4 linked regions of the Homo sapiens genome follow. The protein of the gene in region 4 interacts with the protein of the main gene of each other region in a biochemical or structural test. Each region holds a gene or a part of one and is shown on either strand. Other genes may lie near its edges. The genes, in order: ARHGAP32, RAPGEF1, EGFR and CRK.

The links.
Region 1: the proteins of CRK (region 4) and ARHGAP32 form a complex in vitro, tested with the Homo sapiens proteins (2 studies listed by BioGRID and IntAct, with this or other methods).
Region 2: the proteins of CRK (region 4) and RAPGEF1 form a complex in vitro, tested with the Homo sapiens proteins (4 studies listed by BioGRID, with this or other methods).
Region 3: the proteins of CRK (region 4) and EGFR form a complex in vitro, tested with the Homo sapiens proteins (3 studies listed by BioGRID and IntAct, with this or other methods).

The regions. Positions count from the first base shown.
Region 1 is NC_000011.10:129,189,322-129,196,464, forward strand, and holds the start of ARHGAP32 (rho GTPase-activating protein 32), read right to left. Parts: upstream 3,005-7,143; 5' UTR 2,878-3,004; coding exon 2,762-2,877; intron 1-2,761. UniProt on the Homo sapiens protein: GTPase-activating protein (GAP) promoting GTP hydrolysis on RHOA, CDC42 and RAC1 small GTPases. May be involved in the differentiation of neuronal cells during the formation of neurite extensions.
Region 2 is NC_000009.12:131,737,063-131,744,018, forward strand, and holds the start of RAPGEF1 (rap guanine nucleotide exchange factor 1), read right to left. Parts: upstream 3,015-6,956; 5' UTR 2,769-3,014; coding exon 2,708-2,768; intron 386-2,707; exon of another isoform or gene 353-385; coding exon of another isoform or gene 343-352; intron 1-342. UniProt on the Homo sapiens protein: Guanine nucleotide-releasing protein that binds to SH3 domain of CRK and GRB2/ASH. Transduces signals from CRK to activate RAS. Involved in cell branching and adhesion mediated by BCAR1-CRK-RAPGEF1 signaling and activation of RAP1.
Region 3 is NC_000007.14:55,022,017-55,029,042, reverse strand, and holds part of EGFR (epidermal growth factor receptor isoform a precursor), read right to left. Parts: intron 1-7,026. UniProt on the Homo sapiens protein: Receptor tyrosine kinase binding ligands of the EGF family and activating several signaling cascades to convert extracellular cues into appropriate cellular responses.
Region 4 is NC_000017.11:1,446,207-1,453,232, forward strand, and holds part of CRK (adapter molecule crk), read right to left. Parts: intron 1-7,026. UniProt on the Homo sapiens protein: Involved in cell branching and adhesion mediated by BCAR1-CRK-RAPGEF1 signaling and activation of RAP1.

The sequences.
Region 1 (7,143 bases), on a different chromosome or scaffold from region 4:
AGCCATAAATTCCTCACCGAGGAAATAGGAAAAATGATACCTGCTTTATAGGAGTGATAAGCAGTTAACTGATACACTGTATAAAGCATATATATGGCCTAGTACATTACATATAACAATTTCTAAGTAAAGTTTTTCTTTCTTGATAGAATTAAAACATTTATGTTTTTCCTTTTCTGCCTTATATTCCTCCTTCTTATCCAGGGATGGATTTTTCTAATCATCTCTAGGAACTATTTTATTCTAAGGACTAAATATTCTAGTCTAATAACTATTTTACCACAGTGACAAGGTAGGTAATAATACCGACTACAAATAAGAAATCAGAAAATGAAAGATCTGTGAGTCAATGGCAGACAAATTTAAACTACCACCATGAAGGAGACCGGCAACTTCCCATAGTGAAAGAGTGTTAATAAAAAGGATCCTTTCCTCCAACTGAGTCCAAAAATAAATGCTATTTCAAAAGCTACTGGACAAACATTAACTTGTCTCTGAGACTACTTCCTCCTAAAGCAGATGGCACCTGGAAGCACCAGAAGCCTACATTCTAGGTGTGGTATGACTTTACTCTCTTAGCCATGGTGCCTTAAGTTACACAAGAGCAGGCTTTTAAGAGTGCATTTAAAATGTAGTTTACAAGCTATTCAGGGAAAAAGAAAAGTGCACAATCTTTTGCCCTCATCTCAGCTATGTGTGTGTATGTGAATGGAAATGTAACCAATACGACAGCTTGATGTCACATGTATTTGCAGAGATTTTTATAAAAACACAGTAAGACATTTTTAAAATTATTACATTGATTTTACAAAAACAACTGTCATACCACACTGAGTCTACTATTTGGTCCTCCCAAGGTTACAGCTGCAACTCCTATCCGACCCTTCCCCTTCCACACCCATGCCTCCATTTTCCTGTAGGGCATCTCGGCAGGAACACCACCACGAGGTTGTGAAACCACTCTGCTGCCACATTTCCTCATGCCTCACTGCTGAATGCGTGAGAGACACTACATGAAATTGGGCCTTGCCCAGACCTCTTTGTTACATTTGTAAATAAAATCAGATCAAATCACAAAGATATAATTGATTTAGGAGAGCCATGGTGCTATTCAGATAGGAAATATAAACAGAAGAGAAATGCCCTATGGTATCATAGTTTCCTTAAACAACACATCACTAGCTCAGTTTCTCAGAGTGAAAATGCTGTCACATACTCCCAAGGAAAAGAAGAGCTCATCCTTACACAAATTTGCTTTTAACTGTCAAAAGAAAATCCCAGAGAGACGCCCACTGCCTTACAAGTAAATCTAGGATTACAGTACCAAATCTGTTATAAAAACAACAATGAAATAAGTTCCAAGTTGTTTCTTCCTTTGACAAATACCCAAATAACTTCCATAATTTGAATACCAGGTCAAAAAGTTTTATTACAAGCAAAACAAATACTTCAGTCCTACTCATTGTTAGCAAGACACAAACCATATTAAAAAGCAGAACATGTGACTAACAATTAGCATACCTTGGAAGGGAAGGGACTTACTCAAATTTGAAAGGCTAGATAAAATTATGGGAAAATGAGACAAAAGTTCAGACAAAAAATAATCATATGCTAATAATTCATTTTTATACTCTGAAAATTATTCTTTTAAAATTTTAAATATACTTCTCATTTATTTGAACCCCAGAGTAAAAAATTTAGTGAGGGTTATCAAGAGTTCCCAATATTCAATCCCTTCCATCATTTAACCTAGACTTTAAAAAATAAAATTTGTGGATAAAGAAATCCTTTGACTCGAGAAAAGGAGAAACTCTTTTTCAGCATTAAACACAAAGACAGTATCTGATGAAAACAGTATATTCACCTATCCAAGTTCTCATAGGTAAACTTATAAAAGATGTTTAATTGCACATGTGAGTGGCAGTGATAATATGCAGCAACAAACTTCAAACTTCATCAAGAGATTTTTGTGATACTCAAAGGTATTACATCGCTAACTCTGAAAGAAAAAGAAAAGCCAGAATAAAGCCCCCTAAAATTTGCAACAGTACAACAGAATGAATGAAACATTGGTTCTGTTTTCACAAACTGGTTAAGACATCTTTCTTCACCACAGACACTAAACTGAGAGCTGCTTCATCAGGAGGCATCCTCTAAAAACTTCAATTATGAAGTTACTAATACTACCAGAGATTCAAAAACCAAGAGAGATTTGGGGGAAAGGGGGCATGAGATACAAGATCAGAGACAAGGGTAAAGATCAAAGCCACAAAATAACCAATCTGTACTTAATCGGAATTTTTCATACCCATGCATAAGGCAAACAAAGCAGGCAGGCAGGCAGGCACGCACACACACACACACACACACACACACACCACATTCCAAGAAAAAGAGGAAGAAAAATCTATTAGATACAAATTCAGATCAAATCTATTTGATACAAATCAGATACAGGAAGGGGTAGTAGTTCATTATGAGTGTCTACTTGAAATTCCTGAAAGGCTACTACAAAACCTGTCTAACACCTTCTCCTCCTGGCGTTCTAACAAGTCCTTTAAAATGCATTTTACAAGTTCAGGGCAAGTTGTGGAATGAGGAGTGCTATATACAACTCAAAACCTGCTCCCTTGAGCTCCAAACCTTCCCCCAGAAAACAGAAAGTCTTATTGGAAAAAAGACCGAAATGCAGAGAAGAAAAAGGGGTGCGGGTGGGGGTAGGGAGTGGACAGGACAAAGGAACTGTGAATTCCATAATCACCTGAACTTCTCTTCCCTTTCTTCCTCTTCACAGTCAGTCACCTGGATTATAACTTCAGACTCCAACCAGAAGACACTGTCATCCCCTAAAGTGCTACTCTCACTTTCAGTCTCCATCTTGTACTTAAAAAACAAAAAAAACTAAACCTCCAGGCATGGAATAAAAAGCACCAACATTCAGGTTGTTCAGCTCTACTCATGTATACTCAGATGTGTGTCTGGTGCCCTAGTGACAGGTACTGGTGCTGGTTTAATTACAGTCAGGGTACAGACAGGAAATCACAGGCAGCACAGTCACTGCGTCTGACTGCCATACTGGTGACACCTAGACCCTCCCACTGCCTTAGGCTGCGTGACCTACATAACCAAAAGCAGAATCTAAATGAAGGTGATTTTTTACTAATTATTCTGTAATAATGACTCTTCTCAAAGTTTCCACTTAATAAGTTAAAAATAGGTATTTTCAAAATGCAGGCTTTATTTGTATCCTTTTTTGATCTCGGACTCCAGAAAGGTAAATAGAAAACTAGAAAGAATAACACCATCCACTGGCCAAGCACATGAGAAGCACAGTTATAGATCTCACAGTTAAGGAGGCTCACAATAAGTAGAGAAGATAAGTATGCTCTAGGGACCTGCCTAGGTTCATGCCTTCCAATATTACACCCATCTTTCCTTCCTCTCAGTAAGGACTGCCATATGCATCTCTGCTCAAGTATCCAGAGTGAGACATAAAAGCTGGGCTTGTCCACAGTCCTTGAAAGAAAAAAGTTTAAGTGTCCCAAGTTCAAAGATGCTGACAATCACATCAAATAAAAGCATGCAAAGTTTTACACATTTAAACTGCAAACAGTCATGGTGGCAATAAAATGACTTGCTGGGAAATGAGTGAAAGGTATAGCATCTATGACTGTCAACAACACAACTGTTACTTAGAAAAGAGCCATGTTGACAGAAACTACTGACCTGCTGGATATTCATGGCTATTTGTCTTTTACCAAGCAGCAACAAACTGCAAAGCCCTGACTTTCCACTGTATCTGATTTAATCAAAAATTAAGAAGACATCTACTGAAGTCTTCTTGAATTTTCATATTTGAAAAATAAAGAGCCAAGCACAGTGGCTCACGCCTGTAATCCCAACACTTTGAGAGGCTGAGGTGGATGCATCACTTGAGCTCAAGAGTTCAAGACCAACCTGGGCAACTTAGCGAGACCTCATCTTTATGGGGGGGGGGGGGGGGGGGCGGGAAACAGCCAAGTGTGGTGGTGCACCCTGTAGTCCCAGCTACTCAACAGGCTGAGGTGGGAGGATCGCCTGAGCCTGGGAGTTCAAGGCTGTTGTGAGCCATAATCACGCCACTGCACTCCAGCCTGGGCAACACAGCAAGACCCTGTCTCAAAAAAAAAAAAAAAAAAATATATATATATGCAGGTCCCTAGAGCATATAATATATATATTATATATAATATATATATATTATATATAATATATATATATTATATAATATATGTTATATATAATATATAATATATGTTATATAATATATATAATATATGTTATATAATACATATACAATATATATTATATATAATATATAATATATATTATATAATATATAATATATATTATATATTATATATTATATATAATATATATTATATAATACATATAATACATATATAAATTTTAAAAACTTTTCAAAAAAAATTTTTTAAACCAAAAACAACAGAACAACATTATAAGCAAAGTCAAAATGCAAACAAGTTGAGAAAAAAATATTTGAAACATATCACAAAGGGTTAATTTATTTAATATATAAAAAGTTCTTAAAAACTTCTAAGACCCAAGAGCTCAAAAGATAAATAGGCAAAGAGCAAAAATATAATACTCAGAGATAAACATAAAAGAAACTTAAAAGATGTTAAAAGTAACTTCACTGATAACAGAAATGTAAAACAATACATAATAAGATGACTTTTAAAAAATCTATCACATAGGCAAAGCTTTTAAAAGGTTTTAACAAACTGAAAGAGGACATGGGAAAAGAAACATGCCTGTCAGTGGGAGTTTAAACTGGTACAACCTGTGTTCAGGGCAATTTAGCAAAATCTACCAAAATTCAAAATGCACATCTTTTTGGCCCAGCAATTTCTCTTTTAGGAAATTATCTCACTTTCACAAGTAGAAGTAAGAGGCAAACAGGAACATTCATTCTGGTAGACATTATAGTAGCAAAATAGGATAGCAAAAACAACCTAACTTCCTGAGGAATAGAAAACTAGGCAAATTACAGAATACCCATAGAATGGAATGCTACACAGTGAGTATATGAGAAAACAAGGCAGCCCTACAGGTCACAATACGGAACAAAGCCTAAGGAATACTGTTAAGGCAAAGAAGAAAGGGGTAAAAGTATAGGGCAGTATGTGCAGTATGCTATGCTGCCATCTGTGTTTTCAATGAGGAGTTAGGAGAAACAAATGCAGACTATCTATGGAAGAAGAGGATCAGTACTAGTACCAGTAGTTGTCTCCACGGAGGAAAACAGACAGCTGGAGAAGAGGAATAAAAGAAAGACACGCTTGAACCCGGGAGGTGGAGATTGTTGCAGTGAGCCGAGATCACGCCATTGCACTCCAGCCTGGGCAACAAGAGTGAAACTCCGTCTCAAAAAAAAAAGAAGAAAGAAAGATAGTTTTTCACTATGTCATGCACATATAATCCTTACCAAAATATTAACTAATTTTAAATAGAATCTTTCATGACCTTCAGTAAAGAATTGGATTTTTAAATATTATTTCATTAAGAATCTAGTTCTTTTTTTTCTAAACAACTCTAACTCCTTCAAAGTGTTGTTTTTTTGTGGGGGGGGGGGTTGTTTTGTTTTGTTTTGTTTGTTTGTTGAAACAGGGTCTTGTTCTGTCACCTAGGCTGGAGTGCAGTGGCACGATCTCGACTCACTGCAACCTCCACCTCCCAGTTCAGGCAATCCTCCTGCCTCAGCCTCCCAAGCAGCTGGGATTATAAGTGTGTGCCACGACACCTGCTAATTTTTGTTGTTGTTGTTGTATTTTTAGTAGAGATGGGGTTTCACCATGTTGGCCAGGCTGGTCTCGAACTCCTGATCTCAAGTGATCTGCCTGCCTCTGCCTCCCAAAGTGCTGGGATTACAGGTATGAGCTACTGTGCCCGGCCTCAAAGCGTTTTCATGAATCCTATTCACCTTTTCTTTTAATCATTCTTTTGTTCTTTCATTATGATGGTTGATTTCCCTCACTTCGAGCCTTTCAAAAGTGAAAACGTGAACTGTGAGTGGTATTTTTACACAGAATACTGAAGGACAGTTAAATGTGCACATCTTCCGAGGCTTGTTCTGTTTTGACTCTGCCATCACAAGTTTTTTAAAAATGTTTTTCCTGCCTCAGCTTCCCGAGTAGCTGGGATTACAGGCACCCGCCACCACACCCGCCTAATTTTTTATTTTTAGTAGAGAAGAGGTTTCACCATGTTGGCCAGGGTGGTCACAAACTCCTGACCTCAAGTGATCCACCCGCCTCGGCTGGAGGTTGCTGTGAGCCGAGATCACGCCATTGCGCTCCAGCCTGGAAGACAAGAGCGAACCTCCGTCTCAAAAAAAAAGGAAAAAAAGTTTTTAAATTCAAAACCTACATGTGTTTCTGTTTTCTGTTCCCTTCTCCAGTAGTAAATGAAAATCCAGCGGAATCAACAGGTGATGGTTAACAGCGGGGGCAGGGATGGAACACAGCCGAGTCCATCACTCTGGCTACCAGTGTGTGAGAGAGACTAGATACTGCTGAAGACCACAAGGTGGTTTTAACTCCTTTTCTTCCTGATTTGTTTAAACCCTGATCAGCCTTCACTTTCCCAACAAGCTTTTATGGAGCTGAAGTCTTTGACTGAAACCACAGGAGTCACCAGCAGTAATTTCGAACTAGCTGGTTCTCATCTTCTACCTCCAAGAGGTAGGGAACCTGAGGGGAAGGGAAATAGCTAATCCCACAGCAGCAAAGAGAGAAGCATTCTTACAGCAACAATTTAAACACTGCAAGTCAGAATGAATTTTTTCGAAGAGAAACATTGTTAAAAGTGCTGACTTTCCTAGTAGCAGTGGTAAGTAGTAATAATCACAGCAACAGAGTTGGCCCACAGGTTCCGTATGCATGGGTTCTGCATCCATGAATTCAACCTCTTGGTTGAATCAAAAATACTCAGGGAAAAAAGAGGGATGGTCCTATCTGTATTGAACATGTACAGGCTTCTTCTTGTCATTATTCCCTAAACAATACTGTATGCCAACTATTTACATAACATTTACATTGATAGTTATTATAAGTGATCTAGAGATGATTTAAAGTATGA
Region 2 (6,956 bases), on a different chromosome or scaffold from region 4:
CCTTGGCAGTTGTAATCTTTCACTATGATTCCTATGAACTGCAGCAAAAGACCTTCTGCAAGGAGGCTGGACTTCCAGCCAGCTCCACATCTGCAATCCCCAATCTGCAGGCGAGGTCCTGACCCTGGTCTTGCCAATCTCAGAACTCTTACTTTTTCTGCTTCTCACAAAATGCATCTTCCTCCCACACTTTCCGCAGCTCCTGGTCAGCCCCTTCCCCTCTCTCCTCTTTCTCCCTGTCTCCACCAGGTATATATCTCAGCCCTCTCTTCAGAGCCTAGCACAAACACTGTCCCCTCCAGTGTCTTCCTCATTCCCGCACTCATGACACCCCTCTCTCACCTGTGTCCATGGCAGCACGGTCGCTCGGTCTGGCAGCCTGGGTAGCTTAGAAACTGTGCTAGGTTAGACAAGCTTCTCTGGGAGCAGGCACTTTCATCTACAACCCCCTAGCAGAAGGCGGTGCCCAGAAAAGGCCCAAGGACAAACTATGCTGAAATGAACTGGCCTCAGGTCTTTCTCCCAAATAGCAGAGAACTCAAATGAAGAGTCATTTCATTCCCAGCGGTTTGGGCAGCTCATGGGATGACAGGCAACTTTTTCCTTTTTTTAAAAAAAGAGGCCCAGCGCGGTGGCTCACGCATGTAATCCCAACACTTTGGGAGGCCGAGGTGGGCGGATCACGAGGTCAGGAGATCGAGACCATATTGGCTAACACGGTGAAACCCTGTCTCTACTAAAAATACAAAAAAATTTGCCAGGCGTGGTGGCAGGCGCCTGCAGTCCCAGCTACTCGGGAGGCTGAGGCAGGAGAATGGCGTGAACCCAGGAGGAGGCGGAGCTTGCAGTGAGCCGAGATCGCACCACTGCACTCCAGCCTGGGCAACAGAGCAAGACTCCGTCTCAAAAAAAAAAAAAAAAATTTTTTTTAAAGTAGCAATGAGGTCTCGCCATTTTGCCCAGGCTTGTTTCAAACTCCTGGGCTCAAGTGATCCTCCTGCCTTGGCCTTCCAAAATGCAGGGATTACAGGCGTGAGCCACTGTACCTGGCTGACAGATGATTTCCAATCCGGTTCATTTTACTTTTCTGTGATTTCCAAGTTTTGACAATGAACATAGAATATTCTTATATTATAAAGATATAAAACATAATATAATCTTATATTAGATATAAAAAGATATAATATAATCTTATATATTATAAAGTTCTTATAAAAGAACTCAGTGAATGTTCTTTTTAAAATAAATTATCCAAGTTTCCCAACAGTACCGTTCTGACAAGACACTATACAAGAAGTTCCTGAGAAATGCTGCACAGATGAACCCAAGTTATTTCTGGAGCAGCAGGTGTACAGGATGGCGACTCATGGTCACTCGGCAAGGCTGTGGGGGCTCAAATTCAGTGAGAAAAATACTCAAGAAATGGCACCTGAACCCAAGCGCCCTGCCCCTGAGAAAAGCACCCTGGCTTCTGGTCAGAGGGCCAGGAATGAATATACTAGGGGCCTGCCGCCCTCTTGCTGTCTGGACAGCCGGAACTCACTGAACCTCTCTGAGCCTGTAAAACTGGGACCATATTCTTTCCCACAGACTAGCTTCAAAAATTTAAGAAGCAATGCATTTTAGGTGCTAAGAGTTAGATATATAGTAAACCCTCAATAAAGCCTACAAAAATGTCCTTCTGTGCTTCAACCACAGCCTGCAAAAGTCATATTGCCTTGTGGGTCCGCTGCAGGGGTGCACCCCACAGAAGTATCCCAGATTCAACCCAGGAAACATAAGCAACTTCCACAATCAAAGCCACAGACCTCCTTTGCAGCTCCCTAAAAATCTGCTTTCCCTCATTCAGCCGCCAAGCTAACCTGCTACCGGGGTTATGACCACAGGGCATGCTCCCAGTACAGGAGCCCAGGAGCACCCGCCCACTTCACCTTAGACCCAAGAATTCGCATTTGCCCTGCAAGGTGCTGCAGGCTAATAAAGCCTGGGGCCCCACAGGCTCGACAGTCATTGAATCTTTGGAGACTCTATTTCCAGGACAGGCAAACCCAGGGACTCGGAAGGTAACTCCCCCAGATTTCTAGGAACACACAAAGAGACGAGGTCTGCATCAAGATTTACCATCTACTCCAACCCACCGGTCCCCCACCTGCCCTCCTTGCAGAGCTGAGCTTGATCGGGGTGGGGAGGGGAAACTTGACTACCTCCTCAAAATACCCCCACTCATCCAGCCTGCTTCCTTTGAAGCAACCGAAGTGGACGCTTCTCGTTAAACTCGAAGCTCGTTAGAAATGACACATTTTACAGCTCAGCTGGGTTCACCCTCCTAGCGCCGAGCCCAGGCCGGGCACCGATCGCTGCAGCCGCAGCAGCACGCGGCCCGGGCTGTTCTTCCCCTGCTTGGGGCTCGAGCCATTTTCGGAAGTTCCCGGGGACCGCGGAGCGGCTAGCGCGCCCGGCCCCGGGTTGCAGGGGCCCCGCCCGGCCCGGCCCCTGGCGCCCCCGCAGCGGCCGCTTCCCCCCGCGCCCGGCAGGCAATGGGCCTGGAGGAGAAGCTGCCAGGCGCCCCGGCGAGGCCTCGGTGGCTTCACCCCGCCCCGGCGCACGGAGGGCCGCACATCCCGGGCGACCCGCGCTCGGCCCGGGGAGCGGCGGAGCCCCAGGGCCGGGCCCGGCCGGAGGGAGCCGCCCCACGCCCGCGCCTCACCTGCTTTCTCGATCTTGCCGGACATTTCCGGGCTGCGCCGGAGGCCGAGGCCGCCGCTCATCGGGCCCGGGCCGGGCCGCCGCGGGGCGACAGGGGCGGCGCGCCCGCCGCTCGCCTCGGCCCTGGCTCGCCACGCCTCAGACCCGCGCCGGCATGGCGGGCTCCGCGCGGCCGCGGCCCTGCGCTCGGCGACCGCGCTCCAGCCCGCCCGGGCCCAGCCGCTCCCGCCGCGCCCGCCGCCGCCGCTCCGCCTCCCGCGCGCCCGCCGCCGCTCCCCCGGCCCGCGAGCCGGCCGCAGCGCAGCGACGCCGCCCGCCCGCCCGCCGGGCCTCGGCCGCGGCCACGGCCACAGCGCCACCTGCCGGGCGCCCGCCGCGCCGCCACAGCGCCCCCTGTGGGCCCGGAGCCGCCCGAGCCTCCCGCGCGACGCGCGAGACGCAGCGCCCCCTGCCGAGCCGGAGTCCCCACGCCGGGGCCTGGGGCCTGGGGTGTGGGGCCGACCCCGCCTGGGACTCCGCATTCCTCTGCTGTGGGACCAGAGTCACCAGCTCCAGACCTGGGACTGACAGCTCCAACCCAGGGTCCTCGGTTGCCCAAGAGCCTGGCCTGCCCCCTCACCAGAGACACAGAGAACCCTCCTGGGTCAGATTTTCCACCCCAGGACGTGGAACTGACGCCCACCCCACCCTAGCATCATCCCGGACCCAGCATCCCCTGTGGGCCAGAGGCTCCACACCAGGGCCTAGAACTCACTCTCACCAGGACTCAACAAGCTCTGCTGGCTGGGAGCCTGTCCTGACCTCCCCCAAACCAGAGATGCAGCACCCCCTTTTTTGTTTTGTTTTTTGTTTTTGAGACCGAGTCTCACTTTGTCGCCAGGCTGGAGAGCAGTGGCGCGATCTCGACTCACTGCAACCTCTGCCTGCCGGGTTCAAGCAATTCTCCTGCCTCAGCCTCCTGAGTAGCTGGGATTACAGGCACATGCCACCATGCCCAGCTAATTTTTGTATTTTTAGTAGAAACGGGGTTTCGCCATGTTGGCCAGGCTGGTCTCGATCTTCTGACCTCATGATCCACCCACCTTGGCCTCCCAAAGTGCTGGGATTACAGGTGTGAACCACTGCACCCTGCCCGCACCCCCTTCTTAATTGGAGACCCCACACCAGGGCCTGGGAGTGGCCTCATAGCACCTCCTGCCAGCCCAGAGGCTCCAGCCGGGGAATGAGTCCACTCTGGCATGAAAGCCCTCTGCTGGCCCAAGGTCTATGCCAAGGCGGAGGATTCATTCTCCACCCCAGCCCTGCATGTGGGACTCAGTCACCCTGCCAGCGAGAGCCACCTGTCCCGGGCTGGGGTTGGCCCTACTCAGGCCTAAATGTCCCCTGAGGCCTAGAGCCTCCATGCTGGCCTGGGCCCAACTCCCTCAGGGACACAGCACACCCTGCCTGCCCTGCTTATTTGACATCCAGAAGGGCACCCTGGGGCTCAGCTGTGGAACTTTTCTAGTGTGGAAATGAGTTCATTAAAAGTCGTGGCTGGGCACGGTGGCTCACGCCTGTAATCCCAGCACTTTGGGAGGCCGAGGCAGGTGGATCACGAGGTCAAGAGATTGAGACCATCCTGGCCAACATGGTGAAACCCCATCTCTACTAAAAATACAAAAATTAGGTGGGCATGGTGGCACACGCCTGTAGTCCCAGCTACTTGGGAGGCTGAGGCAGGAGAATCTCTTGAACCCAGGACATGGAGGTTGCAGTGAACCGAGATCATGCCACTGTACTCCAGCCTGGTGGCTCCAGAGCGAGACTCCGTCTCAAAAAAAAAAAAAAAGTCGTGGTTGGGCACAGTGGCTCACGGCTGCAATCACAGCACTTTGGGAGGCTGAGGTGGGTGGATGACTTGAGCCCAGGGGTTCGAGACCAGCCTGGGCAATGTGTGAAACTCCGTCTCTACTAAAAATACAAAAATTAGCCAGGCACGGCGGCACCTGCCTGTAGTCCCAGTTACTTGAGAGGCTGATGAGGGAGAATCACTTGAGCCCTGGAGGCAGAGGTTTCAGGGAGTCATGATTGCACCACTGCACTCCAGCCTGAGTGACAGAGGAAGACCCTGGCTAAAAAAAAAAAAAAAAAAAAGGAAAAAAAAAGTCATTTAAGAATCAAAGGATCTGCTAAGTCTAAGCACTATTTCGGGTTCTGTGGGCCCTACAAAAGTGGGCACAATTGGTGCTTCCCTCCAAAGAGTTCACAACTTAGCTGGGAAGTCAAAGTTAAATCCTATAATACAAGTAGTAAATAACAACAAATTAGTAACGCAAGTGATGTTCCAATGTGGGGCAATTCTGCTGCCTGCTTCCTGTTGTTAGTCTAAGATGGAATACAAAGAAGTAGCACGCACCACCTGGGCTAGTTTTCCCTCCTGTTTCCCCCAAAATAAGTAAATTAAATAACCTAGTGATGGGGACAGGATTTGGGGGAGGTGCAGGGAGGAGGAAAAACTGCTAATGTTGTGAGAGATTCTTATTCCCATCTCCCTGGACAGTCTAAAGGGTCACCGATTCCACAACTAAGAGCTAGTCAGGCCGGGTGTGGTGGCTCACACCTGTAATCCCAGCACTTTGGGAGGCCGAGGTGGGTAGATCACCTGAGTTCAGGAGTTCGAGACCAGCCTGGCCAACATGGTGAAACCCCATCTCTACTAAAAATACAAAAAATAGCCGGGCGTGGTGGTGCGCGCTGGTAGTCCCAGCTACTCAGGAGGCTGAGGCACGAGAATCACTTGAACCTGGGAGGCAGAGGTTGCAGGGAGCCAAGATCGCGCCACTGCACTCCAGCCTGGGTGACAGAGCGAGACTCCCTCTTTAAAAAAAAAAAAAAGGAGATGGTCATAGATGGCAGCCAAATTTCCCATCATCATTTCATCAGTTGCAGCCCTCTAGAGGTCAAAGGCAAATCCAAAGATTGACAAATTCATTTCCCTCTTCCACCTGATGAATGGATGCTCTGATCCAGGGTGGCCCTGTTCAGCCCTCTTGGCAGATGCCTTACCAGGCAAAACTGGCCCCTGGTCCCAGGCCCAACCCCAAAACACACTCAATGCTGCCCCCAACCCTTCTAGGCTTCTGAGCTGAGAAGAGCCGATATTTTAAATCCAAAATCCTGGTTGAAAAGTAGAAAACTAGACTGCATGGATACTAGGTGCAGTCAGGGGTTTGTGAGAACACAAATATATTTAATAAATTATGACATATCCAATGACAAAAGATTTGCAAACAACAAAGTACTTTGCAAATGGACATTATGGTAAATCAGGGTCACAGAACTTACTTAATAAAGGCTATTCATCAAAGATGTTTATAACTATAGTAGAACACACACAAGGTAATGAAGCAAACGGATTCCCAAAGCCCAGTTCTGGCTGACTTGGAACCTTCTCATGAGCTGCTCCTGCTGTCTAGAATGTTCCCTCCCCTCCTCTCCACTTGGCTGGTCCCAGTCATCTTTTGCTTCTTAGTTTCACTGTCACTTCTATGGAGAATGCTTCCCTGACACGCCCCAACAGGGCCATCCTCCTGTACTGATTAGGAAACTTGATTTCACTCTCAGAAACCTAGCTCTGCTATTGCTTACAGCAAGAAGGGCATTTTTTGAAGATCATAATTAGTAAACCAGGTGTACAATTAGGTCCAAATGCAGCTAACCCAGGCTCTGGAACAAGGCCATTGGTCCTCTATGTTGGTTCCCTTCTCAGGTCATCTTTCTCTACAAGGTAGCAAAGGGTGAAGCTGGGCACCAGCAGTCCTGGGCCTGTCACCTGCCTGCTTAACAACCCCAATGGACAAAGAGGATCTCTTTCCTCATTGTTTCAAAGAGAGCCCCATGGCAGAGTCTAATTAGCTCAGTTTGAGTCACACGTCTATCCCCAGGCCAATGACTGCAGGAATGGGGTAGAATATGTGACTTGGCCAGCCTAGGAATTGTGCCAATTGTGAGAAAACTTGGGAGCAGAGGCTGTGGAACAGCCTAGCATCTCAGGAAGCTGAAGCAAGAGAATCACTTGAGCCTAGGAGTTCAAGCCTGTAGGGTGCTATGATCACACCTATGAATAGCTACTGCACTCCAGCCTGGGCAATAGAGTGAGACCTGTGTCTGAAAACAAAATAAATTGTAAGATAACAGAAAATAAAGCCCTATTAAGACAAGGGGTCATGCCGGGCTCTTGTACTGCGGCAGCACCAACTCCAGCAGAG
Region 3 (7,026 bases), on a different chromosome or scaffold from region 4:
GGACTACAGGCACGTGCCACCGCACCCAGCTGTTTTTTTTGTATTTTTAGTAGAGGCGGGTTTCACCATGTTGGTCAGGCAAGTCTCAAACTCCTGACCTTGTGATCCGCCCGCCTCGGCCTCTGAAAGTGCTGAGATTACAGGCATGAGCCACTGAGCCCAGCCAACCATCTTTTGTTTATCTGTCATATGTTTGGACTTAATCAAAAGTGGATGACATCTGACATTGGGGTTCCAGGGTTTTTGTTACCTATAAACAGATAATTGCTTAACTTTCTAATAATATATTAAAATATACTTTATTTTAAAAATCTAGTTGGAGCCATTAGATCTTGCAAGTTAGCACTAGAACAAACTTAAAATAGTTTGTCTAGTTTATCTTGTTCGGCACAATTTGAAGCATTTACAATGGCTTACAGTGTATGAGAATGAACTAGGAGATAATTTTGTAAGTGAATAGAAACCATTGTAATAAAATCTCCTGAAAGCTTTCAGGTATTCAATGATTGCTGGTAAATAAACAAAACCAGGTTTTTGAAATTAAAAAAATGTTTTTGAAAAAGTTTCTAAAATTTGGTATACAATGATCAGAAAATCTCAGGACACCTTTGCCTGTCCTTAAGGACCTGCACAAATTCACTAAGTGGTTTGTTTTTATTCCAGCACTAAAATAATGGATAATTTGAGTATCAGCAGAGACACTAAAACATGCACAGTTTTTCACATACAAATGCCAGTTTGTCTTATCAGAGAGACTATGTGCAATGCATCAATTTTATCCAAAACCTGGAGTAAAGGAAAGAAATTTTAGCAAAGGGTTGTAATGACATCATAAGTAAAACGATAGGACTGCTAAAACAATCATGACGTCATCTGCTGTGCACTGGCCTGCAAGCATGTAGTGGTAAAATCGTCAGATATCACATTTCTGCTTATAAAATAAAATCCTTCATGAATGCTCTTAAAACAACTGCAAAGCAAGCAGTGGTCTTTACCTCCATATGTGTGTGTGTGTGTATATATATATATATATATATATATATATATATATTTTTTTTTTTTTTTTTACATAAAGGCATGAATATACAAGGTAATGTCAGCAGCTGTACTCCACTCTTTATTTGTTGCAAATCTACCTATTTGTTTCCAAAGGATGTCTGCAAATAAATAGGTAACATTGTACAGCTTTCAACAGTGGATCAGAACATAGATGTCTCTTCTAATTCACAAGTACCAATGGCTCAATTAATTTAAGGGACATTTTCTGAGTTGTGTGATTTCACATGTATTTATCGTGTCTAGAACTGTGCAAACTTTTGTTTCATTTCTCTCTTAGATTTCTGTAGGAAGAGTTAAAGGATGTGAAGTAGTCATTTTACTTATTCATAACACATTTTAGGGAAAATTGTGCTGTTGCTGTTGGGGAGAAAGTTAAAGCTATCAACTATAACCTGGACTCCAGTCCAATTTTTCACATCTGGTTGCTACTTTTAAAAAGGATCATTTTAATTTTTAAATGCAGAATGTGTTGCACTTTATCTTTGACATTCCAGGTTTCCTCATGGTCATTTAGAAAAATAAAGCAGGAAATTCTAATGCCTTAGCATCTACTTTAATAAGATGTTTGCATTTATAAAAATAACAAGAAACTGAGGGTTTTGCTGAAGGAGCACAGGGCCTACAAGTATTTCCTCATTCCTGTCCCTGTGCCTGGAGGCCCAGCTAAGCATTCTGTTTCTGAGAAACTCCCCTTGTCACAGAGGCTGAATTAGTCAGTCCCTCTTTTGGGCTCCCACTGAAATCCCAAATCACATCTGTTATAAAACATTGCATTACAGGGAGTGATCTTGTATGTGTCTCTCTTTCTCAGCCCTTCCAAAAGGTAAGTCGGTCCTCAGAGGACAAGTGCAGTTATTTTGTTCCCTTGGTGTATCTAGATCCCAGCATGCGATGTGCCTGGAGTATATCAGCAGTTCTCAAAATCTGGCATGCATCAGTCAGAATCTCCCTGAGGACTTGTGTGCACAGACCGGGGCCTGCCCTTCCAGTGTCTTACTCAGAGGCCAGGGTGGGGTCCAAGAGTGTGCATCTCCAACAGGTTCTCAGGTGCTGCTGCCATGCTGGGCCCGCTGAAAGCCACTGCAGAAAGCTTTTTTTTTTCCCTTTTTTTTTTTGGCAGTTAAAGAGAGGTTTTCTTTAGTTAAAACCTGGGAGGCACTCCTGGTGAATTTTGGTCAAGAGCGCTTTCTCTTACAGACTAGGAGTATATATTGGTTTTAGGGTGAGGGAGATTATCAGAATTTTGGAATGTTCCTGTTTGAGGGAGAAGTTTTATGGCAGGGTTGGAATATCTCTGGGAGGAGGCAAGTTTATCTTGGGGCAGGCATCTTTCCGGCCAGAGAGAGGTTATCCCGAGACTGGCATCTTCCCTGCTGGAGGGGGGTTATCTCGGGACTAGCATGTCTCTGGTCGAGGAGGAGTTTCGAATGTTTCCGGTTGGAGATGTTATTTGTGGTTTATGGTCATGCTGACCTTAGCCATTAGGCTGATGCAGTTTGAATTTAGGCAGTTTTTTATTAAGGTGAACTTTAGAATGAGGGGCTTGTCCAAGATGGCGATGCTCCTGCTCTGTCGAGCCAGACCCTATAGTTATAAAAAGGAGGAGGGGTGGAGTGTTCTTTCTGGCTATTTCCTCACTGCAGGAAACTTTTAATGGACTAACTTGTGAAATAAAATGTGACTCTGGAACTGATTTACTAATGAAATATGCAACTGTTTCTGGATCTCGAAGGAGCTCATGAGATGAGTAAGAAATGGGGGTCTGAGAGCAAAGACAAGATTTCTTTCGTTACGAGCTACATACAACATGTAATCCACTCCTCAGAATTGCCAAGGGAGCTTTAAGAAATGTGTGTGTGCCAGGCTCCATTCCCCAGAAATACTGATTGTCCTGGTCTGGGGCACAGTAAGGCACCCTCTTTTTCAAAAGCCCCTCAGCTGGTTAGAAAGCATGGTCAAGGTTCAAAAGCTACTGCTTTAAGAAAAAAGAAAAAAAATCATCTCCTACTTTTTTTGGTTCAGCCACTAGCGTACAAAACCAAGTAATGTGATGTGGTCTTAAGCAGGGAACAAGAGATCCCCATTCCGAGTATTTGCAGCAATATATAAACATGACTTCTGGTACACTTATATGCACAATATATTATATTACCAGTTGCTGATAACTGCAACTAATCAGCTGCTGACTATAGCAGCCTCACCTAGAGAGAAGCTGGTATCCAGAACCCCTGGTGTGGCTCAATTTCGATGCTGACGGTGAGCATGAGACAGGTGGAGCCAGGAAACTGTGAGAGGAGAACTTGTTCTGTGATCTAAGACAAGTAACTGACACGGAAATATGTGAGCAAATGACAACTCAAGCCACATTGCTCTCCTGTGCTCTGGACCACCGTATTCTACTGCCTCCTGGACTTCTCCATCTGAGCACTTCAAGCTCAACACATCTAAAAGCTGAATATTGATATTGGACCCTCCTGCCCTTCCTCTTCTCCTCCCTTCCCTTCCCTTCCCTGCAGTCCCATTGACTTCCCAGCCTTTGTGATTGCATTCAGTATCTATCCAGGCTTCCAAGTGAGAAGCCTGGGTGTCAATCTGGGATTCTTTCTTTCTTATGCTGCTACATATACTTATCAACCAGTTCTGCCTCCTGATCAGCCCCGGAGTCCCCTGTCCTGAATCTTCCTTGCTCCTGCTTCATCCTCTGTCTCTGGCAATAGTCATGAACCTTCCTGTTTCCAATGCCACTCCTGCAGTCCATTCCCCAAACCGCTGCTGCAGCCATCTTTCTAAAACACCAAACACAGCATGTCAGTTCACAGTCACTTCTCTTTCACACAGGACAAAATCCAAAGCCACAGTGAGGATGGAGCTCTCTGTGAACTGTAGGTAGCCTTACCATTTATTCCTTCTCTTCCTGCCATTTGAATTACTAGCACTCTCAAGAACTTTGCTGCTATTGGCACTGCTTGTGTAATGCCCTGCACATCCTATTCTCTGGGGAAATAATCATATAACCAAATAGCTCAAATGAGTAATCCCTTCCATTTGTGGCTAAACGTGCTCTCCTCCCCATGTAGAATTAAAGGCAAAGACTGAACTCAAAAGTCATCCTTTGTCCTGGGAAGAGTTCCGTCATTGATTCTGTGACATTGTTTCACACTTATTATCTCTAGCTCTCTTTCCCCAGTTGACTTCCAGACACTTAAGGGCAATTACCAAGTCTAATTTATTCTTACATCTCAACATATGGATGCAACAGTGTAAATCACTCATCATGGCTCAAACATAAAGAAAAAAAAGCCTAAGTTGTAACAGGTACCAATACTTGCCCTTCTATGCAAAGGGCAAACAATCATGGTTGACTTACGTAATTATTTAAACTAAGTCAGGGCCATGTGTGCTGCCGCGCTAGTAATGGTGTAATTGCAGGTGTACTTAGGGCTGCCTGCAAGGCATTCTCATTGGGTGCCTTGTCCCCTAAATTATAACTTGAGTCTTTTGTTAATGAGAAGTTCCAGATATATTCAGAAAGGACACTTGGACTCCGAGTCTCTCCTTGAAAACCCACCAGAATGAGATAAAACTTGGATCAGAGAGAGAAATTCTACTCCCCCATGTTAGTGTTTCCATACTGCTTGCTAAAGCAAGCTGCTGAAACTGGTAGGAGTAAAATTTACTCTAAGCATATGCAATTCACAGATGCTCAGTCCACAGGACCAGTCATTTGATACTGAACTTCAGGGCCTTCAGGGATTGAAATGTCAAATCTAGCACTTACTTTCTAGGGGCTCAGTAAACACACCCCCAATATTCCTGGCCCCAACTACCCCTCCTGCTCCCAGCTGGCTCAGGGAACTTTCTAGACAACTGGATTGAGTGTATCTATCTAAATGTGTAGCAAGAAAGCTTTATCAGATGACTCTGAAAAAGTGAAAATTACAGGCAAACTAGTTATTTGAATAAGTTCCAATGCCTGGATTCTTGCCCAAATTCAAACTGGCCAGCTTGTGCCTATGGGCCCAATGGAGGACAATCTAGAGATGTCGTCCAAAGAGCCAACTGCTGGAATTTTCTTAGAAAATTCATTCCTGTAGGAGGAAAACGAAAAAGAACGAATGAGAAAACACTATGATGTTTAATGGGGATGGCCTACAGGAACAAGTTAAGATTTACACTCTATTCTCTATGGATTAGTGGTTCAAGAATAAACCAGTAATAATTAACTGAGACTAACAATGTTTATTACCATAATTTCAAATGTCCATAAGTGATAAAGGAAAACAAAAATGGAATGGATCTGAGGAACAGAATCTGTTTTTTTTTTTTTTTTTTTGAGATGGAGTCTCACACTGTCGCGCGGGCTGGAGTGCAATGGTGCGATCTTGGCTCACTGCAACCTCTGCCTCCTGGGTTCAAGCAATTCTCCTGCCTCAGCCTCCTGAGTAGCTGGGATTACAGGCACCTGCCACCACGCCCAGCTAATTTTTTTTGTATTTTTAGTAGAGACTGGGTTTCACCGTGTTGGTCAGCCTGGTCTCAAACTCCTGGCTTCATGATTCGCCTGCCTCGGCCTCCCAACGTTTTGGGATTATAGAGGTGAGCCACCATGCCCGGCCCAGAATCTGGTTTTAAAAATTATATTTACAGGGAAGCAACATGTGGGTGAACCATATTCTAAAACTTTGAAATTTTCTCAACACATACCCCTATTAGTAAAACCCAATGTTAAATAAGCTCATAACTAGAGTACTTATGAAGTCAAAATTAAAACACGCACACACAGACACACAGGCACACACACAAGTCACATGGCAAGGGCCACACTGTGTTGCAGGTGGGTTCTGCAACAGGCGAAATGTCCTCAACATTGTGACCCATCCCTATTCCGGGGCACCAGCCTGGGGTTACCTTCCCTTCAGTGCCCATAATCATCAATTGCCTTTAATATTAGAGTTGGTTTGTCACTCTCGTCAAAAAAGTTTCAGATGCTAGCTGCTAGTCTTAGAGCTTAGATCAAAGAAAAAACAAAGAATATTTTCTTTTCAAACAGGGAGGAATCCTTCATCTTTGCTGAGACTACTTCTAAAAACATTTCAGAACATGTTAGTGCTGTCACGTGGACCAAGTGTAATTATGCAGCACAATGGACTTTCGGCAATCGGTGTCTTCAAACCAGAAGTTTTTGAAAAATCATGAGTTATGAAACTAAATACGTGAAGCCAGAAATTACTGTTAAAAGCCTATTGGAGCTCTCAGCCAGTTTCTTGTATTCTGTGCTACGGCAGTGTGGGTCTAACACACAAACCACTGGTGTCCTTTCCAGATTTGAAAGCAATCTGGAAGCAAGAGCAGAAACCCTTAAAACTCACCCCCCCTTCAACCTTTAGCCCAGAATATCTAGCATATTCTATGCACTCAGTAAATATTCACTGAATTCAGAAACAACAGCTCAGAAGCCTGAAGGGTCAAAGTGACTTGTCCACCTTCACCCTGGGCTGGAGTGAGAAGAAAGGTCCCAATTGCCAGGCCGGGCTTGGGCTTTCTTGATCTGACCTCCTTTGAGGAGGGAGGGTGGGGTAGATCTCACTTTGGATACCATTAATATCCCCACTTTGGTTTCTCTTTAAGACAGCTCGGACCTACTGAATGGGAACGTCTCCAGAAGTGGGGCTGGGCGGGCTTATTTCCACAAAGCTCCCTCAGTTGGGAATTCGACTCGCCTTGGAATACTTTCCAGTGTCCCTTCTGGAGAGCACCTTCATCCTGTAAGAGGCAGGGCTTTGCTCAGCACCCCTCAAGCAGTCTCCACTCCATGCTCACTGAACTGAGGACTAAGCTGCCTCTATGGAAGGTGACCCAACAGAGGGCTGAGGAACTCGGCAGGAATGCAGACTGCCGGACAGCCCGCGTTGAAGCTTCAGACAGGCTCATCGTCATGAGCCGGCTCCCTGGGCCCTTTCCCCTTGC
Region 4 (7,026 bases):
GCGGCACGTCTTAGGAAGACAACCTCCCACCCGGCTTTCACCTTCACCTGGATCTATGTTCCTGCTAAAGACAGTTGGAATAACGCACTGTGTCCTGAGATACAACAGAATCGCCATGAGCAACTACGACCATCTGTGAACACTTCCAAGGTACTCTCTCCACTGGAAGAAGGAAGGTAACCACCCCCTGCCAGCCACTGTTACCATAGCAGGCCGAGCGAAATACATTTTGGCGGGGAAAGAACAAATGAGACTACTAAGCCAAGTCGCTCTGAAAGATGAGTGAGAGAAAACTTGGCAGATCATCTGGCGCAAAGGTAGGAAGCAGGTTTAATTCTCTTCTTGGTCAAATGCCACAATAGCGTGAACTGGGCTCACTATGACTTTTTTTTTTTTTTTTTTTGAGGCGGAGTCTCGCTCTTTCGCCTAGGCTGGACTGCAGTGGCGCCATCTCGGCTCACTGCAAGCTCCGCTTCCTGGGTTCACGCCATTCTCCTGCCTCAGCCTCCCGAGCAGCTGGGACTACAGGTGCCCGCCACCACGCCCGGGTTTTTTTTTCTGTATTTCTAGTAGAGACGGGGTTTCACCGTGTTAACCAGGATGGTCTCGATCTCCTGACCTCGTGATCCGCCCGCCTCGGCCTCCCAAAGTGCTGGGATTACAGGCGTGAGCCACCACGCCCGGCCGTGACTTTCTTTTTGTTTGGCAATCCCAATAGACACAGAAACGTAAGCAAAACGCCACGGAAAACCTTTGATGTACTTTACTTATAAATTATTTTTCTATTCTGACACTGTAATAATTTCACAGAGAAATGCCCGTTTCTGTGAACTGCTGGGGGCCATCAAGCTTCATTGATCCAAACTCCAGAAGGAAGGGAGGAGAACAGAACACACATAAGTCCCAGATAAGCCCAAACCTCACCATGGCTGTGTGTTCCGGCTCCTTTTCTCTCTTTCCTCTCCTTCCAACCACAAACAGCCAAAGGCAGGAAATAGAAGGGCGGGAAAGGAAGGAGGCACAGTCAGCCAGTCTAGAGAACAGAAGCAACGACAGGATTCTCATAGCTATCTGGGACTTGGAAAACCTCAATGACTTGTTCTACATCACCCTGTGCTGGATTCTGAACGTGGAGTTAGGAAGTCACACAAACGGAAATCAAAATCAATGCAAGGAGAGGATATCCTTTCAGCTTCTCGGTACCTGCTCAGCCCGTTACTTCTAAGCCTTCCAAGCATTTCAAGCCTCAGGTTACGACCATTTTTACAAGGCCACTCCCTCCCTGAAGGTTTCATGAAGAACACCTGAGGGCTCTGTGGGCTAAAATAGGCCCAATCACTTCTGACGGGTCTACAAGAGCGGGCCAGGCTCTCCTTGATCTCACAGCACTTTCTCTTTTCCTTTTTTTTTTTTTTTTTTTGAGACGGAGTCTCCCTCTGTTGCCCAGGCTGGAGTACAGTGGTGCGATCTCAGCTCACTGCAACCTCTGCCTCCTGCCTCCTGGGTTCAAGCAATTCTCCCTTCCTTAGCCTCTCGAGTAGCTGGGATTACAGGCGCCCACCACCACACCTGGCTAATTCTTGTATTTTTAGGAAAGACAGGGTTTTGCCATGTTGGCCAGGCTGGTCTCGAACTCCTGACCTCAAGTGATCAGCCAGCCTCAGCCTCCCAAAGTGCTGGGATTACAGGCGCGAGCCACCACACCCGGCCCTCTTTTCCCTTTTTTCCTCAATTCTTGCTCCCTCCCTTCCTTCTCTGCCTGTGGTATTTACAGGGGTTGCTTAGATAAATACCCACCAATACAAAACGCTAAAAAGGCCACTGGCTCGGGAGGCTGAGGCAGGAGAATCGCTTGAACCCGGGAGGCGGAACTTGCAGTGAGCAGAGATCGCGCCACTGCACTCCAGCCTGGGCGACAGAAGGCCACTGGTTTCCATCTGAGAAGATATATGGTCTCCTAAGCAAATAGAATGTTCTAAAGATGGTGGGTATGAGGACGGTCCTTTGCAGGTTTGGTGCATTGTGGCTCTCATTTTCTAGCTGTCTGAGTTACCTAACTTCTGTGTGCCTCACCCCCGACTCTGCAAAATGGGGTCAAATACCTATCTAATAAATAAAGTTCCTAAAGTGGCTAGAGGCTGGGCGTGGGGGTTCACGCCTGTAATCCCAGTACTTTGGGTGGCAGAGCCAGGCAAATCACTGAGGTCAGGAGTTCAAGACCAGCCTGATCAACATGGTGAAACCCATCTCTACTAAAAATGCAAAAATTAGCTGGGCATGGTGGTGCACGCCTGTAGTCCCAGCTGCTGGGGAGGCTGAGGCAGGAGAACTGCCTGAACCTGGGAGGCAGAGCTTGCAGTGAGCCGAGAATATGCCATTGCACTCCAGCCTGGGTGAGAGCAAGACTCCATCTCAAAAAAAAAAAAAAAAAAAAAAGAAAAAGTGGCTCGTACATTATAGGTGCTCAATAAAAAGCAACCAATTCTCCAAATTCCTTCAGCAATTTTCAATTCATCCTCAAATCCAGAGCCCACTGGACCGTTTCCCAGAGAAAATTCCACAGGATCTCAAGATGCTTCTCAAAAGTTCTGTGGTCAGGCAGGTGCGGTGGCTCACACCTGTAATCTCAGCACTTTGGGAGGCTGAGGCAGGAGGATCTCTTTATTTTTTTCTCTATTTTTAAAAACTGATTAACCAATCTTTAGGGAGACATCTGTTGAGGCCAGGAGTGCAAGCCCAGCCTGGGTCATACAGTGAGGCTGTAGTGAGCTATGACGGAGCCACTGCACACCAGCCTGAGCAACAGGGCCATCAGCAGTCTCACGCTACCTCCAGAAGTGGCTTGGCCCAGCTGCCAGCCTGGCATGTAGCTCTTCACTACCTCGAGGGAGTATCACAAACTATTACCACCCTAGCTTCTGTCCCACGCCTTCAAAATGAAGCACGTTTTATGCCCCCCTCCACCCACTAGCGCAACAGGTCGGATGAGCAGGTAACAGGAGGCACCATCTTATTTCCAAGTGCTGGACCCGAGGTCCTTTCACACTTACGGATGCACTCCACCCAGGCACCTACTCCCCAAGACAAACTGTTTCACCAGTTCCTACCATCCACAGCATGAATTCCACAGCCTCTCAAAGATAAGAAGTTTTCCATTTTGCTTCAAAAGCCCCCACACCTCAGTTATGTTATTAAGATTCGTATACATGAAATGCTTATGGAGTACTTAGTATGCCAGTACTGAATATGGAGTATCATTCCAACAACCCTATGAGATCAGTATTACTATTTCCCTCCTTCACAGATGAGGAAACTGAAGCAGGGAAAAGTTAAACAATTTGCCCAAAGTTACACAAGCAGTAAGTGGTAGGTAAATAAGGCCCAACCCAGGATCCACAGCTCAAGCTTATAACGACTCTCCTAACTCACACTCCTTCAGCTGTGTCAACCTGAAAGGTTTAGCTGTTCAAGAGAAAAAAAACTAGTTTCTTGCAAGCATTCCAAGGAGGTCCATCTTGAAGCCCAACCTGACAGAATGTGACCAGTAGACTTGGCCAAGCCCTTCCTTATGGCCCCAGGGAACTCCCAAGCTATGGCACCACAGGAAGCCTATGCAAGCTGAGGACCCAAGACAAGTTAAAAACAGGTTCAACGGAAAAGGCTGAGAATCACTGGCCCATTCTGTACCCATGCCTTTAAAAATAATACCCAGCTGCGCACGGTGGCTCACGCCTGTAATCCTAACACTTTGGGAGGTCAAGGCAGGTGGATTACTTGAGGTCAGGAGATCGAGACCAGCCTGGCCAACATGGTGAAACCCCCATCTCTACTAAAAATACAAAAAAATTAGCTGGGAGTGGTGGCGCATGCCTGTAATCCCAGCTACCTACTCAAGAGGCTGAGGCAGGAGAATGGCTTGACCCGGGAGGGGGAGGTTGCAGTGAGCTGAGATCGTCCCACTGCACTCCAGCCTGGGCAACAGAGCAAGACTCTGTCTCAAAACATAAATAAAGTTTAAAAAATAAGGCGCGGTGGCTCAGGCCTGTAATCCCAGCACTTTGGGAGGCCAAGGTGGGCGGATCACGAGGTCAGGAGCTCAAGACCATCCTGGCTAACACGGTGAAACACCTCTCTACTAAAAATACAAAAAATTAGCCGGGCATAGTGGCGGGCGCCTGTAGTCCCAGCTGCTCAGGAGGCTGAGGGAGGAGAATGACGTGAACCCGGCAGGCGGAGCTTTCAGTGAGCCGAGATCGCGCCACTGCCCTCCGGCCCGGCGTGGGCGACAGAGCGAGATTCTGTCTCAAAAAAAGAAAAAAAACACATAAAAATGACACCTAAGCCATTCCATATAATTTTCACCTATGCACTGTGTAAACAAAATATACTCTGTAGGCTAGATGCGATGGCTCACACCTGTAATCCCAGCACTTTGGGGAAGCCGAGGCGAGCGGATCACTTGAGGCCAGGAGTTCAAGACCAGCCTGGACAACGTGGCAAAACCCCGTCTGTACTAAAAATACAAAAAAATTGGCTGGGCATGGTGGCGCATGCCTGTAATCCCAGCTATTTGGGAGACTAAGGCAGGAGAACTGCTTGAACCCAGGAGGTGGAGGGTACAGTGAGCTGAGATCGCGCCACTGCACTCCAGACGGGGCAACAAGAGCGAAACTCCCTCTCAAACAAAACAAAACAAAACAAATAGGCCGGGCGCGGTGGCTCACACCTGTAATCCCAGCACTTTAGGAGGCCGAGGCAGGCAGATCACAAGGTCAGGAGATCGAGACCATCCTGGCTAACACGGTGAAACCCCATCTCCACTAAAAATACAAAAAATTAGCCGGGCGTGGTGGCGGGCGCCTGTAGTCCCAGCTACTCGGGAGGCTGAGGTAGGAGAATGGCATGAACCCCACGGGGCGGAGCTTGCAGTGAGCCGAGGTCGTGCCACTATACTCCAGCCTCGGTGACAGAGCGAGAAACTGTCTCAAAAAAAAAAAAAAAAAAAGCAATAACAATTTTAAAAAGCTTCTTCATCATTGACTTTAGATAGCAGATGTGTATTGTCTGAATAATAAAGCCAGTGGCACGATCTCAGCTCACTGCAACCTCTGCCTCCGGGGTTCAAGCGATTCTCGTGCCTTAGCCTCTCCAGCAGCTAGGATTACAGGCGTCCGCCACCACGCCCAGCTAATTTTTGTATTTTTTAGTAGAAACAAGGTTTCACCATGTTGGCCAGGCTGGTCTCGAACTCTTGACCTCAAGTGATCCACCCTCCTTGGCCTCTCAAAGTGCTGGAATTACAGGCATGAGCCACTGCGCCCGGCCTCTTCTTGCCATTCTTTAATTCTGGTCTTTAAAAAACCTGGGCTGGATGCGGCTGTATGTGCCTGTAGTCCCAGCTACTCACAGCCTGAGTCAGAAGGGCTGCCTGCCCCAAAGTTAAGGGCTGTAGTGCACTATGACTGTGCCTGTCAACAGCCACTGCACTCCAGTTTGGGCAACATAGTGGGGGGAAAAAAAAACAAAAAACACAAGGCCGAGGTGGGCGGATCACCTGAGGTCAGGAGTTCGAGACCAGCCTGGCCAACATGGTGAAACCCCGTGTCTACTAAAAATACAAAAAAAAAAATTAGCTGGGCACAGTGGCACATGCCTGTAATCCCAGCTACTCGGGAGGCTGAGGCAGGAGAATCACTTGAACCTGGGAAGCAGAGGTTTCAGTGAGCCGAGACTGCACCACTGCACTGTAGCAGCCCGGGGGGCAAGAGCGAAACTCCATCCAAAAACAACAAAACAAAAAACACCAAGTCTTAGACTCCAGGGCAGAGGCAAAGTATTGAGGATATTGAGGATACGGACCTCTATGTGCACTGCTGAGATGCCAAAAGAACGCTGGCTTTGAGAGTGTAGTGTAAAAGGGTCAGCTCTCAGGTCAGAATGCCTAGGTTCAACTTCTGAAAGTCATTTATTAGTTGTGTGACCTTAAGCAAGTTACTGAATCTATGAGTGTTTCCTCCTGTATAAAATGGGAATATTTTAATAAATGGAGATCATATTACTTATCTCACTAGATTGTCCTAGACAGTAAGTGAAATAAGGTACATAAAGTACTCAAAGTACCTGGCACAGAATAACCAGTCAATAAACATTAGTTATTAATATTCTATACGCCTCTCTAAAAAATTCAAGAAATTTCTCTGTGTGACTTCAAAAGGACTTGGTGAGGGGGAGAACAAAGATTCAGTACTTAGTACTTGAGATTTGTGAGGTACAAAGTAATTCTGAGGTTATACAGACAGGCCAGGCGCTGGTGGCTCACGTCTGTAATCCCAGCACTTTGGGAGGCCGAGGTGGGTGGATGATCAGAGTTCAGCAGTTCGAGACCAGCCTGGCCAACATGGTGAAACCCCATCTCTACTAAAAAAATACAAAAATTAGCTGAGCATGGTGGTGGGCGCCTGTAATTCCAGCTACTCAGGAGGCTGAGGCAGGAGAATTGATTAAACCTAGAAGGCAGAGGTTGCAGTGGGCCAATATCGCGCCATTGCGCTCCAGCGTGGGAGACAAGAGTAAAAACTCGGTCTCAAAAAGAAAAAAAAAAAAAAAGACAGCAACTGACCAGGCACAGTGGCTCACACCTGCAGTTCCAAAACTTTGGGAGCCTGAAGCATGAAGTCTATTGAGATCAGGAATTTGAGACCAGCCTGGACAATACCGTGAGACCCCTCATCTCTACAAAAAAATTTTCAACAGTTAACCAGGCATGGTGGATACGCCTGGAGTCCCAGCTACTCAGGAGGATGAAGTGGGAGGATGGCTTGAGCCCAGGAGGTCAAGGCTGCAGTGAGCTGTGTTCATGCCACTGCACTCCAGCTTGGGTGACAGAGGCTCTGTCTCAGAAGAGAGAAAAAGACAGCAACTGAATCGTAGAAAATGGGGTACAACATGGCAGAAAGAATTATCACAATACTCGTGAATTTTCCACACCCCATCCATAAACTTTGGCAATCTTCACCGTCTTTCCTC